Regions from separate parts of the Homo sapiens genome. Here region 2 is linked to region 1. The links come from fine-mapping of genetic effects on gene expression. Tissue or cell type: T cells. Region 1 holds a variant in brackets; the other region holds the start of a gene. All regions are shown on one strand. Distances are between the middles of the regions.

Region 1 (8,108 bases):
TTAAAAACAGCAATCCTCCCTTTTTATTTTGTTTCCTGCCGTGTTCCCTTCAGAGTATTTTAAGTTAACATTATCATAACCAGTAGGAAACCCTGCTCTCTGAAAGTTAATTAAAATAGTGGAGTGGGGACTTCCATTTTCTTTAAATAGATGACAGTCTGAATTTCCAAGTCAGCCCTTAAACCGCAAAGATAACAGGCTACTTGGGTAACACAACACAGACAAACAGAGAATTCCTGAAAGCTGACACGGCAAGGAGGCAAGGCTTTATCACCCAGCTGCCAGCCACAAATGAGTTTGTAAAAGCAAAGCTTTTTTTTTTTTTTTTTTGAGACAGAGTTTCACTCTCGTTGCCCAGGCTGGAGTGCAGTAGTGCGATCTCGGCTCACTGCACCCTCTGCTATCCGGGTTCAAGCGATTCTCCTGCCTCAGCCTCCCGAGTAACTGGGATTACATGTGCCCACCACCACGCCCGGCTAATTTTTGTATTTTTTAGTAGAGACGGGGTTTCACCATGTTGGCCAGGCTGGTGTTGAACTCCTGACCTCATGATCCACCATCCTCGGCCTCCCAAAGTGCTGGGATTACAGATTACAGGTGAGCAACGAGCCCGGCCTTTTTTTTTTTTTCCTAAGATTTTGAGAGGTGAAAATTACCAAGTAACTATGTGATTAGGGTGCTTCTACTTGTAAGAAAAAGTGAGTGACTACATTTTGCAATTCAGTGCTGGGTCAGAATGAGAGTATATTAACACCCAGCTTCAAGTGGGAAGGGAATATTCACAAGTTACAGCTGTGCTACAAAAAAAAAAAAAAAAAAAAAAAAAAAAAAAAAAAAAAAAAAAAATGCAGCTATTTCCCATGGGAAAGGAATTTCTTTGGATGCCCTGGAGAGTAGTTAAGGAAGGGAGGATAAAAACACTTTCAAGAAATTTGCCCCTTAGTTATTACACCTCTGGAGCACTTAAAGCTCTAAAATCTAATTTCATTTCCAGAGTCTTTACCGTCAATGATAATAATAAAAATATCATCTCCCATGGGCAAGGCGCTATGCTGAGTACCCACTGGAATCAATGGGAAGGCTGTAGTGAAGAGAGGAGTTTTGGAATTTAACTGCCTGGGTTCAAATCCAGGCCCAGCCACTTGTTATGTACCTGTGGGTAGTTTGCCTAGCCTCTCTGGAACCATTTCTTTGTCTCAATAAACAATATTTGCCATCGTTACTATTATTAATATGTTTAATCCTCACAGCAACCCTTTGATGGCACTGTCATTGTCCCCATGTTATAGATAGGAAAACTGAGATTTGTAGCTGTTAAGTAGCTTACTATTTAGGTCACATAGCTAGAGAGTGGCAAATTAGGGCTCCAAACCACATGCATTTTACCACTGTTAGAGGTTTCCTTTTTTGTTTTTTGGGGGTTTTTTTGTTTTGTTTTGTTTTGTTTTGTTTTTTTGAGATGGATCCTCGCTGTGTTGCCCAGGCTGGAGTGCAGTGGTGCAATCGCAGCTCACTGCAAACTCCGCCTCCTGGGTTCAAGCAATTCTTCTTGAAATTAGCCACCATGCCTGGCTAATTTTTTAATTTTTAGTAGAGACGGGGTTTTACCTTGTTGGCCAGACTGGTCTCAAGCGCCTGAATCTCAGAAAATCTGTCAGCCTCGGCTTCCCAAGAGTGCTGGGATTACAGGTGTGAGCGACTGCACCCAACCAGTTTCTTTTTTTGTATCCCAACACAAATTTGTTAGAATCATTACCTTCCTGGCCAGCAGAATAAAGAAGGCTTACTTGACAGAAATGAAACGTTTTTGTCTTATTTCAGGTCGGGCCTTTGATGAATCAACAAAACACTTTTGTGAAAACTCTTGAGAAGTGATTTTCCTCTCTACAATACTTGGTTAAAAGTTAAACAAAGTTTCCCAAGTTCTCTTGGCTAAGTTTTCAATCTGCTCATGAGCGCTATGAATCTCCCAGAAGGGGACACATAAGCAGCATTTTCCACTCTTATTTCAGCCTCTTGCTGGACCACACACTCTACTCTATGAACCATAGAATCAGAGTAGGAGTCAGGCTTCTGCATTTCACAGCTTAAGTATTTTGCATTTCAAAACCCCTTGCATTTCACAGCTTAAAAAAACCTGATGCAACTAAATGAACACAAAAACCCTAAGTCCCACCTTAATACATCTTTAGACAGTTACTAACACCACATAGGATCAGTCCTATACAGGAAGTAACTCTCTTGACCCATTTGAGTTCTCAGTTTCTTTCTCCACTGGAGTGGACCAGGCCGTTACACCCATCATAGCTACTTGGTCCTGAAATGAAACTCAGCATACTTGGCCTCTTCAGGTAGCGGCTGGCTGAGACACAGGCATGCGTGGCATTCGGTAGGAATAGAAAGTAGCATGACATGAACTACTTCCACTTCTCAAAGTGCAAACCATCCAGAGTCTACAGGAGCTGTGAGACGACATTGTTGAGGGAGAATTCTACATTCCCCCGCTGATAAGCATTTCCAGGCCTTTTGGTTTGTTTCTGGAAACACACTAAGTGATAACATAACACATAACAATACAGTCTTCTTATCTGTGTTCAGATGGCTAATGCGGTTAATCCATTTTTTTGTGTGATCAGGAAAGACACATTGAATCACACATACAGGAAGAAGGATTAAAGAGTTGGGGCTTCAAGTTGACCATAAATAATTTTTCACTTGTCTAGTAGGAAGTTTCCCAGAAGAGAAACACATTTCTTTGACTTTCCATTCTTTTGTAGGAAAACATTATCTGCATTGATTGTTTTTCTTTTACGTGTTCTTTTTTTTTTTTTTTTTTTTTTTTGAGACAGAGTCTTGCTCTGTCGTCCAGGCTGGAGTGTGCAGTGGCGCTATCTTGGCTCACTGCAACCTCCGCCTCCCGGGTTCAAGCAATTCTCCTGCCTCAGCCTCCCAAGTAGCTGGGACTACAGGCACATGCCACCACGCCCGACTAATTTTTTGTATTTTTAGTAGAGATGGGTTTTCACCATGTTAGCCAGAATGGTCTCGATCTTCTGACCTTGGGTTCCACCCTCCTCGGCCTCCCAAAATTACAGGCATGAGCCATCATGCCTGGCCTATGTATCCTTTTTCTAACTCTAGATTTAAGAATAAATTTTTTTAA[A/G]TTGTAGTAAAATATACATAAAATTTATCATCTCAACCATTTTTAAGAATAGAGTTTGGTAGTGTTAAGTAATGTTTATGTTGGGTGTGTGTGTGTGTGTGTGTGTTTGAGACAGAGTCTTGCTCTGTCGCCCAGGCTGGAGTGCAAGTGGCATGATTTCGGCTCACTGCAACCTCCGCCTCTTGGGTTCAAGCGATTCTCCTGCCTCAGCCTCCTGAATAGCTGGGATTACAGGCACGCACCACCACACCTGGCTAATTTTTTGTATTTTTAGTAGAGACAAGGTTTCACCATGTTGGCCAGGCTGGTCTCGAACTCTTGAGGCAATCCACCCGCCTCAGCTTCCCAAAGTACTGGGATTACAGGCGTGAGCCACCACGCCTGGACGTGTTTATGTTGTACGGCCAATCTCCAGAACTTTTTCATCTTGGAAAAACAGAAACTCTGCACCCATTAAACAGCTCCCTATTCACTCCTCCCGCAGTCCATGGCCACCACCATTCTACTTTCTGTCTCTATGAATTTAACAGGAGAGAAATAAAATATTTTTATTTTAAATATTTGTAGATTTTCATGTTAACCTGCTTCCCAACCTAAGTCATTCTTATGGATGATATTTCTTCTACCCATTATTAAGAGAGTTAAAGGTTCAAAGTAGACATGATCGGAGTCCTCAGGGAGCTGGCTGACGTTTAGAAAAATCTTTCATCACATTTTCATTCTCATTAGAAATTCCTTAGACCTAAAAACAAATAGCTTGACAGTTGATCCCCATCAAGCATGCAGATGGGCAGAGTAATTGTCCCCTGTTACAAGTTAGGCCACAGACAAAAATGTAATGACAAAGGAATTCTAGCTGAGAGGACACTGCACTTCCCAGAACACAAGCAGGTTTCCTGCTACAGGATGCATCTTTGGTAGAATGCTGAGAAAATAAAAGGCTGACACCAATCCTGTGGATCAGTCATGATGTTGGAAAAGTGAGTTTCTAGGCTGAGCTTCCACTGGTTGCCAATAGACTCTGTCAAACCAAGCCCCAAACTGCTCACAACTCGGAACTTGGCAAGTTACTTTCAAAGTTCTTTTCCCAGGCAGTTTATTATAAGCCCTTAGAGTTGCCAGATTTAGCAAATAAAAATATAGGACGCCCAGTTAAATTGGAATTTCAGATGAACAACGAGCAATTTTTTAGTATAAGTATGTCCAATATATTAAATCTGCCAACTCTAACCCAGATCACCCCTTTAGGATTCTTCTCAATAGTAATAATCGACCACCAGCCTGGGCAGAGAGTGGTAGGAATAAAGTGTTTGGTAAAATCTTTGGTTTATTATGCTACCTTCAGAAAGGAAGGAACATTTTTGTTGTTGTTGTTTTGAGGCAGGATTTTTCTCTGTTATCCTGGCTGGAGTGCAGTGGCATGATCATGGATCACTGCAGATCACGTGCCCCCTGGGCATAAGTGACCTTCCCATCTCAGCCTCCCGAGTAGCTGGGACTACAGGTGTGTACCCCACGTCTGATTAATTTTTGTATTTTCCATAGAGATGAGATTTCACTGTGTTGCCTAGGCTGATCTCAAACTCCTGGGCTCAAGCAGTTTGCCCACCTCAGTCTCCCAAAGTGCCTGGATTACAGGCGTGAGCTACCACACCTGGCCAGGAAGGAACACATTTATTGAACATAGGCAAGTGCCTTCATTGCATTCTATTGTAATATACCCAAGAATCCTATGCAACAGGTCACTATTTGTATTTTTATAATATGGAAATGCAGGCTCACAAAGGTTAGTTTATCTAAGACCACAAAACTCCTAGGAACAGAGAGACCTGGGACTGAATGCAGTTCTAAAGGCCAAACCGTATTACTGCAAATCATAGGCCTAGAGCTGATTGGTTGGTTGGTATTTTTGATTTTTTCCTAGGTATGTACTGGCTGCCTGTGTACTAGCTCTAGTAAAATGATGGGCAGCTAGGTGATCTTTCTAAATCTCAGTTTCCTTATCTGTAAATTAGAGCACCAACATCTTGGGTGCCATGAAGACTAAATGAGTTTGTGTAAGTAAAATGCATCCTAGGCACTTGTCACACATAGCAAGTGCCTAGGATGGCCACCTTAAGAGCCCAAAGTGGATGGGCGCTGTGGCTCACGCCTGTAATCCTGGCACTTTAGGAGGCCAACGCCGGCCGATTGCCTGAGCTCAGGAGTTTGAGGCCAACCTGGGCAACATGGTGAAACCCTGTCTCTAGTAAAAATACAAAAAATGAGCCGAGCATGGTGGTGCGTGCCTGTAATCCCAGCTACTTAGGAGGCTGAGGCAGGAGAATCACTTGAACCCAGGAGGCAGAGGTTGCAGTCAGCCGAGATCGCGCCACTGCACTCTAGCCTGGATGACAGAGCGAGACTCTGTCTCAGTAAATGAGTACATAAATAAAAGCCCAAAGAATATCTTTTATCATCCTATGAAAGAGAAGCTGAGAGGTCTGAGGAAGCTGGGGACCAGAGATGGTGTAGAAATGCATGCTCGCACCTGAACCCCCATGAAGGCGCTAGAAATGCATGAAGCCTAGAAATGCATGCTCACACCTAAACCCCCATGAAGGCCTTCTTTGCATGCTCACACCTGTAGCCCTGTGAAGGAGCTTCTTAGGATGAAGGATGGGCCAACAACTTCCCACCTCTCACAGAAACAGTGGGAGGCATCCCTAGATTTGGCCAGAGGCCAGGAGAAAGGCTTATATAATTCTTTCAGTTCTCACTTTTCACTCTGTAAATAGCTGCAACCTGACTTGGTTTAAGGTCTGATCAAGAAAGGTTTAAATCAAGAAAGGTTTAAAGGTAGGGAGGAAATTCCAAAAATGAAAGACCCTGTGGCTTAGGAGGGGAGGAGAGCAAGGGCTGGCACAGCCAGCTGGGTGTTTCCTTTCCCGGCCCCTCCCTCCTCTTCCGTTCCTCCCTAGCTTTCCAATTCTCTCCTCTTCCTCCTCTTGTGCTCCGGCCTGCAGTTGTCCAGAGAACAAACCTCTGGTCCTTTAGATCTGTTGCCACCTACTGTGGGAACTTTGGTAAGTTTTCAAACTTCAGTGGGTCTTGTTTCTCTCATCTGTGCATTTAGGGGTTGGACCAAATGAATTCACCTCGCTTACCCGGCTAGGTGGAGCTGCTCTCTTTTAAGTTTAGTCTGGGTGGGTAGAAAGTGAAGAGGGCTCTTTCTTTTAGCTGTTATGCAGTTAGCTCAGTCTGTAATCAGTTTTTCGGAACTAACTTGCAATAATCAGGAGTGGCATTAGGCATTGAGTGAACTTGAGCTCTAGCTTTCTGCTTTTGCATATGATTGACTGTGAATGAAAGTGTCAGCTTGTTTCTTCTTTTCTTCATCCCATCCCAGGCCTTAGTATACCCTAACAGTAACAGAGATAACTCATCCAGGGTAGAGATCTTACTCTGAGCTTTTTGAATCAGTATAAAAAGTGGGGCTTCAGGAATACCTTGTGTGGTTTAAGGAGCTTTAATTGATATATTGGACTTCTCACCTGTAGCAGTTTGCAACTCCCTGTTTTAAGGTTCTGCCGAAAATGACTGGAGTCTGGTTTTGCAGCTCATGTAAAAGTGTTTTTCAAAAACCAAATTTGGGGCCGGGCACGGTGGCTCATGCATGTAATCCCAGCACTTTGGGAGGCCAAGGCGGGCGGATCATTTGAGGTCAGGAGTTCCAGACCAGCCTGGCCAACATGGTGAAACTCCATCTCTACTAAACATATAAAAATTACCCGGGCATCGTGGCAGGTGCCTATAGTCCCAGCTACTCAGGAGGCTGAGGCAGGAGGATCTGTTGAACCCAGGAGGCGGAGCTTGCAGTGAGCTGAGATTGTGCCACTGCACTCCAGCCTGGGCAACAGAGCGAGACTCCATCTCGGAAAAAAAAAAAAAAAACCAAAACAATAACAACAACAATAAAACCCTAAATTTGGTGTCCTCACTACTAAGGGACAACTAGGCTATGGTTTTTGTTTGGTTTGTTCTGGTTTGGTGTGGTTCAAGAAACACTGCTAACACATTAAGTCTTGTTATCTATGTTCAGATCCTTGATGTGGTTAATCCAGTTTGATCTAGTTTAAAAACGCAGACTGTCATCACCTAAGCAATACATATTTTGGTGGAATTAATCAGTGGCTACCATAATGATAAATGCTGAAGCCTCAAAGTTAAAATCTTTCCTCTGCTCCTTCCCTATTTCCTGTCCCCTCTTCCTAGAATCCTGGAGGAGTAAGGCAAAGTTGTTAAAGCACAGGTTTGGAGTCGTATTTGCTTTGTGAGTTTAAATTGCTTAATCTCCCTTAACTCTGTTTTCATATCCATGAAATAGGGACACTGATGTTAATAGCATAATATGCCTGTAGAGAAAGGGGTTAGCCCACTCTCTGCCACCTGGTAATACCCAGTGAAAGAGCTGTTGTCCCTTAGAAGTATTTCTTTTTTTTTTTCCTTTCTTTTTTTTAATTTGATATGGAGTCTCACTCTGTTGTCCAGGCTGGAGTACAGTGGCATGGTCTGGGCTCACTGCAACCTCCGCCTCCCAGGCTCAAGCGATTCTTCTGCGTCAGCCTCCTGAGTAGCTAGGATTACAGGCACCCACCACCACACCCAGCTGATTTTTGTATTTTTAGTAGAGACAGGGTTTCACCTCAAAGCCAGGCTGGTCTTGAACTCTTGACCTCAGGTGATCCACCCACCTCTGCCTCCCAAAGTGCTGGGATTACAGGCATGAGTCACTGCGCCTGGCCCTTTAGAAGTATTTCTTTTGGGGGATTAGATGACAGCACTCATGTTTTGTCACTGCTAGGTCAGGTCACTTGCTAGAGTCTCCTAAAACAAACCTGAGCTGTCCACCCAAAAGCTTTGCTCAGGCTCCCTGACCATCTCTACAATTTAAGGAGTTGATTAC
Region 2 (8,108 bases), 150 kb before region 1:
ATCACTCAGTCTTGACCTTCGAACTTCTTCTACAAAAGAGGAAAGCCATTTGGATAAGAAAAAAAGCATCAGTGTTTATGTCAGTAGAAATAAGATGTCTTCTGTCTTGCACCCAGCTTCTCTGAGTCCACGGGACAAGTTGCCTCTAGTGGGGAAGATCAAGCTCAAAAAGCTTTTTGGGAACTTGAAAGAGCAACAGAACTGCTCCCTGAAAACAAGTTGCCACAAACTTTCACCTTCAGCAAACAGAAAGTCATAGGAAAGCACATGTAGGTAACTAGTTGAAATTTAAAAACACATTTTATAATATGTACACAGGGACATAGAGAGTGGACTAAGAAGGCTTGGCACAGTGGCTCACGCCTGTAATCCCAGCACCTTGGGAGGCCGAGGGGGGAGGATCACGAGTTCAGGAGTTCGAGACCAGCTGGCCAACATGCTGAAACCCCATCTCTAGTAAAAATACAAAAATTAGCCTGGCGTGGTGTTGTGCACTTGTAATTCCAGCTACTCGGGAGGCTGAAGCAGGAGAATCACTTGAACCCGGGAGGCGGAGGTTGCAGTGAACTGAGATGGTGCCACTGCACTCCAGCCTGGGCGACAGAGGGAGACTACGTTTCAAAAAAAAAAAAAAAAAAAGTAGACTAAGAGACAATGGAGACTGGGGAGGGTCAGAGGGTGGGAGGGGATGAAGGATGAGAAATAACTTAATAGGTACAATGTACACTATTCTTGTGATGGCTACACTCAAAGCCCAGACTTCGCCACAATGCAATATATCCATATAACAACACTGCACTTATACTCACTAAATCTATCATTTTAAAAACCCACATTTTACTTATACTGTTTTATCTGACTACAAAAAACTGAAGCAATTCTTGATTCGGGGGGTTATGGTGATTAGTTTTCTTTGGATGCTTACCCTTCACCAGACACCGTGCTAAAGACCTTATACAGAATATTTTACTTAATTTTCCCCAAACTTTTTGTAGTGAATACTGATAATACATTGTACACATGAGGACATTGAGACTTTGTTGACTTAAGGAGCTTATATGGGGTCTCACGGGTCCTGAGGAGAGGAGATCTGAAGTTGGGTGGGTCTCTTTTAGAAGATTTAGCTCCTAATCACCATACTATCACTATTGTAGTTCTCTAATTTTAGCATGAGTCGGAATCCTCCAGAGGCCAACTGAAAGCTCTGATCGCTGATCTCACCCCCCAACAATTTCTGATTCCAGGGCTGCCTGAGAGCTTGCATCTCTAGCAAATTCCCAGGTGATGCTAAAGCTGCTGGCCCAGTGACCACACTTTGAGAGCCCCTATTATACTACATCCTATCTTCTAAAAAATTGCCCTGACTTTGGAAACCTTGAATGAAAATGATGGAATTTGAAAGTGACTGCTGACATTAGACCTACGCACAGATAGCTAACAGCCAGAGTGTTTCTAGAGCCTCTCTTCTGAGAGGATGGTGTCATGAGACAGAGGTAATTGACCTGTTGTAGGTTTTATTCTGGTATTCCCTTGGCTGCCTGACATTTCCGAGAACACAGTCGAACTGCATCGTTTAAAAAAAAAAAGTACCACCACCATTTGCTCGTACTAATAGGGCATTTTTGAAGTTCAGTAGTTTTCCATTCAGCATGATGACAGTTCTTTTTCAAGCTAAGTTCATTTTCTTTTGATTCAGTAAAATCTATTATATTCAGATTCATCGTTACCATCATCTTGAAAAAAAAACCATCAATACTAATACTGATGGCACATAGAGAAGACTTATTGTGAAGAAAGGTTTGCAAATCTTGGACCAAGTCTTGTGTCCTATTAACTAATTCAACAAAAACTCTTGGGCAATTTTATTAACGAAAGAAATCTCATTTAAAAGTTTTCTGATTACAGTCACTGAAAACAACAGGCACTTTGAGGACAGATTTTGTGTTCTTCGTCTTTTGACTGATTGAGTTTCACCTGAATTAAGATTATAAAAGCACATTTGATACCTGAAATCAAGCTGATTTACTTGTCGATAATCTGTTCTGGAGTCTTCTGGGCTAGTTCAGGAGAAAAGCTTTGGTGCCTTACCTTTCCTTTTGGTGCCACTTAATAGCATAGATAACAACCCAGATGTGAAACAGCCAAGAAAATACAGACAATTGACTTACAGATGGATTCAGGAAAAAACTCCATCCTGAAATTTGCTACAGCACTTTTGCTATGAGAAATCTTCATACATTCTAAGGGAAAATGGAGGCTGGGCACAATGGGTCATGTCTGTAACGCTAGCACTTTGGGAGGCTGAGGCTGGAAGATTGCTTGAGCCCAGGCATTTGAAACCAGCCTGGGCGACATAGTGAGACCCCATCTCTACAAAAAAAATAATGATAATAAACTTAGCACCTGTAGTCCCCGTGGCTGAGGTGGGAAGATGGATCACTTCATCCCAGGAGTTCAAGGCAGCTGTGAGCTATGATTGAGTCACTGCTCTCCAGCCTGGGCAACAGACCTTGTCTCAAAAATAAATAAAGGAAGACAGAGACTGGTGGTAGGCGAGACTCCTTGAGCTCCCTTTTCCAAATGTTTCCAACAATCAGCATCAATTCCCGAGGGAAAACTTTAATAAATAAATAAATAAGATTAATTATCTAGTGACTTCATGAGTGGTGGAACAGTTTCCTTTGGTTTTGAGGGGAGAATAAACTACCCATGCAGGTTGGTGCTTGCAGGTGAGGTTAGACATGTCCAGAGGCTGAATTTTCCAGAACTAAACCACCGATTCTCTTATGGGCTTCTGTTTCCCAGCACTAGTAACGGCAAGCTATTTACAAGGGACCAAGAACTCTGTTTTTCTCCCTGACTGCTGCATTGGTATTAGCAGCATCTTGGTGTGAGGAAACCTGCCTTCCTGCTGGCAACCACAGGAGGCTGTCATTTTCTCTGAGACCCTCAAGTTAGGAGCAAAGGCAGGTTCTAGGGCCGCCTGTTGCTTTGAGACTGTTGCCTTCATCTCCTGCTTCCAGCAGAACCAAGGAAACATTCGTGGCTATTCCCCCAGGAGTAGGGTCCAAAGGGATGCCTTGGAGATTTTTTTTTTTCTCTCTCTCTCTTCTGCATCTGTGGCTGCCCAGAGGTGTTTTATCAGTGTGAACAGAGCAAGATGAGTAAGGTGTTCCCCGAGGCAGATTAGGAGACCACTCGTCCGGTGTGGGGGGTGTGTGTCTGTGTGTGTGTGTGTTCGCGCGCGCGCAAGACGTGGAAGCCAAGTGTGCTGAAATGCAGCTCCCCTCTCTGCCTGCAAAGAGTTGCTCCGCTTCCGTCCCTGCCCCGCGCCCTGGGGAAGCGCCAGGGGGAGTCCTCGCCGGCCAGGGCTTCCCGTGCCCCGGGAGCATCGAGGGCCAGCTTGGTGGAGCTTAGCACAGCTTGCTCGGCGCTGCGAGCGGGCGGGGGTGGACACTGGGCTTCTGTGTGCCAGTCGCAGCCGTTGGCTGGCGGGCACCCAATCCCAGGGCATGCCGCCGGAGCCTGGCCAGGACGCACGGTGAAAGACGAGTTTGGTGGCAGGCTTGACCCCCCGGCTGCCAGCAGAAGCCGGCGTCGGGAGCCCAGGCGGGCAGGCCGCTGGGGTCGGGGCTGCACGTACGAGAGCCGGGACGCCCGGGTTCAGAGCGAAGGAGGAGGCATGGCTTCGGTGTTCATGTGTGGCGTGGAGGACCTGCTGTTCAGCGGCAGCCGCTTCGTATGGAACTTGACCGTGTCCACGCTGCGGAGATGGTACACGGAGAGGCTGCGGGCTTGCCACCAGGTGCTGCGGACGTGGTGCGGGCTGCAGGACGTGTACCAGGTGAGCTGGAGCGCGCGGCACCCGAGGGCCCCAGCAGGATGCCGGGCACTCGTGGGAAGCAGGCTCCACCTGTATGATTTTATTCCCCCCAGCTCTTCTTAAACTCCTAGCAGACTGCTTGGCCCTTGGGTCAAACGCTCAGCAGCTCTAGGTAATTATTGCTTGACAGAGCTTGTGAATTTTTCAAATCGGGCATGGGGGGCACTTGCGAGATAGTCCCAGCGTTTGCAGACATCTGTTACAGAGCAATGGTGTACTGGCGGGCGCTTGACTAGGGAGGCTGTTGCTTTGCAACAGAGGGTCTTCAGAAAGCCACTTAGACATTCAAATGAGTCCTTCTTTTTAATTTCATTGGGGGTGGGAGTGGCTGCTTCTGAAGCAACGGTTTCACACCAATTTGCTGGCAGAGGGGGCCTTGGTGGATTTTTATCCTTCCGTTGGATTTTCAGTTTTCCATCAGGCAGCCCCAACTTGTAAGGCAGAGCCAGGAAAAGCTGATTCTGTGTCTACTGGCTTTTGGAAGGAAGGACAGCAAATTGTGAACACTTTGCAGGAGGATGACAGGCTGGGGAAGGGAGGGGTGGCCCGGCTACACGTTGGAATGCTCATGTTAGGATTTACTCCCTGTCACACAACACAGCCCCTTTATTTCTCTGCTCGGTCCCATCCTGCAGGCAAAAAATGCAGCAACTTTGCTCAACTAGGAGACCATTCATCCTCTCTGGTACTGCAGTTTGCCTGGATTTCTTTTTTTTTTTTTAGACAGTAATTTATGAATTTAAAAGTTCTGTGCTTTGGTTGTTAATATATTTGAGATTTTTAAAAATCTGCATTGTTTAGAAATATACTTGGTGTCTACTGTGGAAAGATAATATCATATTTTCTTTCCTGTGATGTGGAATAGCTTTGTTGCAGTTCCTGGATTTCCCCCCATTTGACCCTGTTCCTAATATGTCTAGAATTTATGTCTTATTATATTGTGTCTCATACATGATCAAGCACTTGATTTTGACAAACCATAATCTTCCATCAATCAGGCAAAATGAAAAGGCCAGCACCTAAGGTTAGCCTGTGGAAGTCTAAAGAGTCAGCGTCCCCTTGTCACCCTTGTTAAAATATGAGGAACATTTGAACTTGTGCTTTCACTGCTTCTGCTTTGTATAACATATCTGTGATATCTTGCATTTTGAAATGGAATCTGAAAGGCAGGTTGGGAACCAGGGCAGCATGTGGGAGTTTGAGAGTATTAGGGAATTGTGGATATATCCCATCTGGCCACATTACATAGCTCTCTGGCTTTTTGGAGCCAGAAGTGTGTCTGTCTTTCAAGCCTTTTTTTTCCTCTCTTGGGAAATCCCTGTTCAGTTTGGTCTGTAGAATAAGTGCCCCTTATGTAATTTTGTTTTTCCTTTTTAGTGTTTGAGAAACTTTCAAAAAGGGAACGCAAATATTGTAGCCAACCAGAGTGACTCTGTGCCTCACTCCCCAAGGATTCAGAGGATTTATGGCTTATCTGTAATACTGTTACTGACCAATTCAAAAATAAAGATTCCAGAAACCTGAGACCTTATGGATTCTTTATAAGGTTGACTGATAATTTTTATGCAGAATAGCAATTTGAGACACTGAGCTACTAAAATATATGTATTTTTTTCTTTTCTCTAAAATGGATGGTGACTGAGCCAATACCATATCATAATTGATAAGAACATCTAAAATAATGGTGGTAGTCAGGCAGTGTGCTGTGTGTCTATAATCCCAGCTACTCAGAAGGCTGAGGCAGGAAGATCCCTTGAGCCCAGGAGTTTGAGGCCAGCCCGGGCAACATAGTGAGACCCATCTCTTAAAAAAATAAAAAATAAAAAAAAAATAAGTCCCCACTCCTTATTTTTAACTTTAATCAATTGTACATTTCAAAATAACTAGAAGAGAATAATTTGAATGTTTCTAGCACGAAGAAAAGATAACGGTTGGGCACCATGGCTCATGCCTGTAATCCCAACATTTTGGGAGGCTGAAGTGAGAGGATCACTTGAGCCCAGGAGTTCAAGACCAGTCTGAGCAACATAGTGAGACCCCATCTCTACAAAAAATTTAAAAATCAGCCAGGTATAGCGTCATGAACCTGTGGTTCTCTCTGCTCAAGACGTTGAGGCAGGAGGATCACTTGAGCCCAGGAGTTCAATGCTGCAGTGAGCCATAATTGTCCCACTGCACTTCAGCCTAAGTGACAGAGGGAGACCTCCTCTAAAAAATTAATTAATTAAAATATTTAAAGCATTGGCTATCCCAATAACCCTGCTTTGATTATATGAATGTGTCACATTATCACATGTACCCCCGAACTATGTACATCTAATATGTATCAATGAAAATAAATAACAAAGGCTTTTATGAATACAGAATCAGAAGAAAATGATCTCTAAGTTTAATATTTCCTGTGCTTTTGCAAAAATAAGATTTTCAAAAATATTTTCAGCCTTTGAATATTCTTAATTGTGCAACATAATCCTTTGCAAAGGAAGATCATTTTTTAATGCTTTTCAAATATTAAGTGAAAAAGTAGTGACTTAATTGTGTAGAACTAAAAGACAGTAACTGCAAGTTAAATAGACAAGGGAGTTAATCCAGTCTTTGCCTATGTATGACCGTGGGTAAGTTAATCTTACTATACTTCAGCTTCATCATTTATAAAATGAGAAATTAATAGTACTAATCACAGAGATTGATAAAAGAATTAATTGACGTGAGATATTTAGCACGCTGCCTGGAGTTTAGAAAGCATCCAATAAATGTTATCTTTTCCATGAGTTAGGATTTTTTTTATTATAATAGAAAACCCAATTCAAACTTGCCTACAGAGTAAAAAGAAATGACTTTTGTCACAGCTGAAAAGTCTAGCAGTAGAATGAACTTTAGGTATTGTTTGATCAGGGTACCATGCTTTCAGACCTGGTCTTGCTGATGTGTTGGCTTTATCTTCAGCTGGTTTCTTCCCTCACAATAGCAGATAATCACAGCAGTTTCAGGCCTTATATCCACACATCCAGAAAGAAAGAATTTCTCATATCCTCCAACTATCAAAAAAAAAAAAAAAAAAGTCCCAGTTTACATGCTGGAACTCCAATTTAGGGTCTGTACCCACTCCTGATGCCATGCACTGATTGGCACAGAGTATGGGATGACAATTTATGCATTCTCAATGAGAGTGAAATGGCCCAAAGGAGGCAAAAATTGTTTTGGAGGAGGGGGGTGGGAAAAAAATTCACTACTTTTATTTATAAAGCACGAATATACATGCAATATATAAACAGAAATACAGCATATCTGTGACATTAAAATGGGAGGGATTGGGCTGGGTGCAGTGGCTCACACCTCTAATCCCAGCACTTTGGGAGGCCAAGGTGAGCAGATCACTTGAGGTCAGGAGTTCAAGACCAGCGTGGCCAACATGGCAAGACCCCGTCTCTACTAAAAATACAAAAAGTAGCTGAGTGTGGTGATTCATGCCTGTAATCCCAGCACTTTGGGAGGCTGAGGCGAGTGGATCACTTGAGCTTACGAGTTCGAGACCAGCCTGGCCAACATGGCAAAACGCCATCTCTACTAAAAATACAAAAATTAGCCAGGCATGGTGGCACATGCCTGTAATCCTAGCTACTCGGGAGGCTGAGGCATGAGAATCACTTAAACCTGGGAGATGGAGTTTGCAGTAAGCCATGATCACACCACTGCACTCCAACCTGGGCAACAGAGTGAGACTCTGTCTCAAAATAAATAAATAAAATGAAATAAAATAGGAGGGGTGACAAACAAACAAAAATCTAAAAAGGCTCCTTAAGCAGATAACAATGAATTAAAAGGTTAAGAAACACTGGATTGCATTGATTTGCTGAGGCTAGAGGGGAAGGGACCCATTTCTGAACCTAGGATTGAGGTTGGCCCTACTCAGACCACAGAGCTGCCAGGGAGGAAAGGCAAAATGTTTGGCTGAAATGCAACCAACAATGTTCACTGCATCATTAGAATATCAAATCTAGTGCTCTTTACATAAAAATATTAGCTATTTTTCAAGATAAGTACAAAGATTAATGCTCAAATACCTTTGTATGTATTTTGCCACAGGAATTTGAGTTAAGGGGCTTATCATAAGATTACCCCTTTGCTATCCCATAATTGTGAATTCTAAATCAGAGAGGGGATTGTTCCACTGCACTGCTCAGCTTTCAGGCATATGGACTAGAAACACACACACCAGGGAGTT

What was found. PIP is the estimated chance that this variant, and not a neighbour inherited with it, causes the effect.
Region 2: FRMD4B starts here. The variant in region 1 is fine-mapped to the expression of FRMD4B in T cells (TOPMed, PIP 0.98).

Annotation. Positions count from the first base shown.
Region 1 is chr3:69,235,217-69,243,324 of GRCh38, reverse strand. The region is part of intron 7 of FRMD4B (FERM domain containing 4B); the gene reads left to right. Among named protein-coding and RNA genes, the nearest start is that of LMOD3, 120 kb to the right of the region's middle. RefSeq lists enhancers at 7,298-7,797, 7,798-8,108. The variant A/G (reference allele first, on the strand shown) is at 3,164.
Region 2 is chr3:69,381,564-69,389,671 of GRCh38, reverse strand. FRMD4B (FERM domain containing 4B) reads left to right here and starts at 3,584. Exons shown (of 23, transcript NM_015123.3): 1 at 3,584-3,844. The coding sequence starts at 3,683. RefSeq lists an enhancer at 3,507-4,117.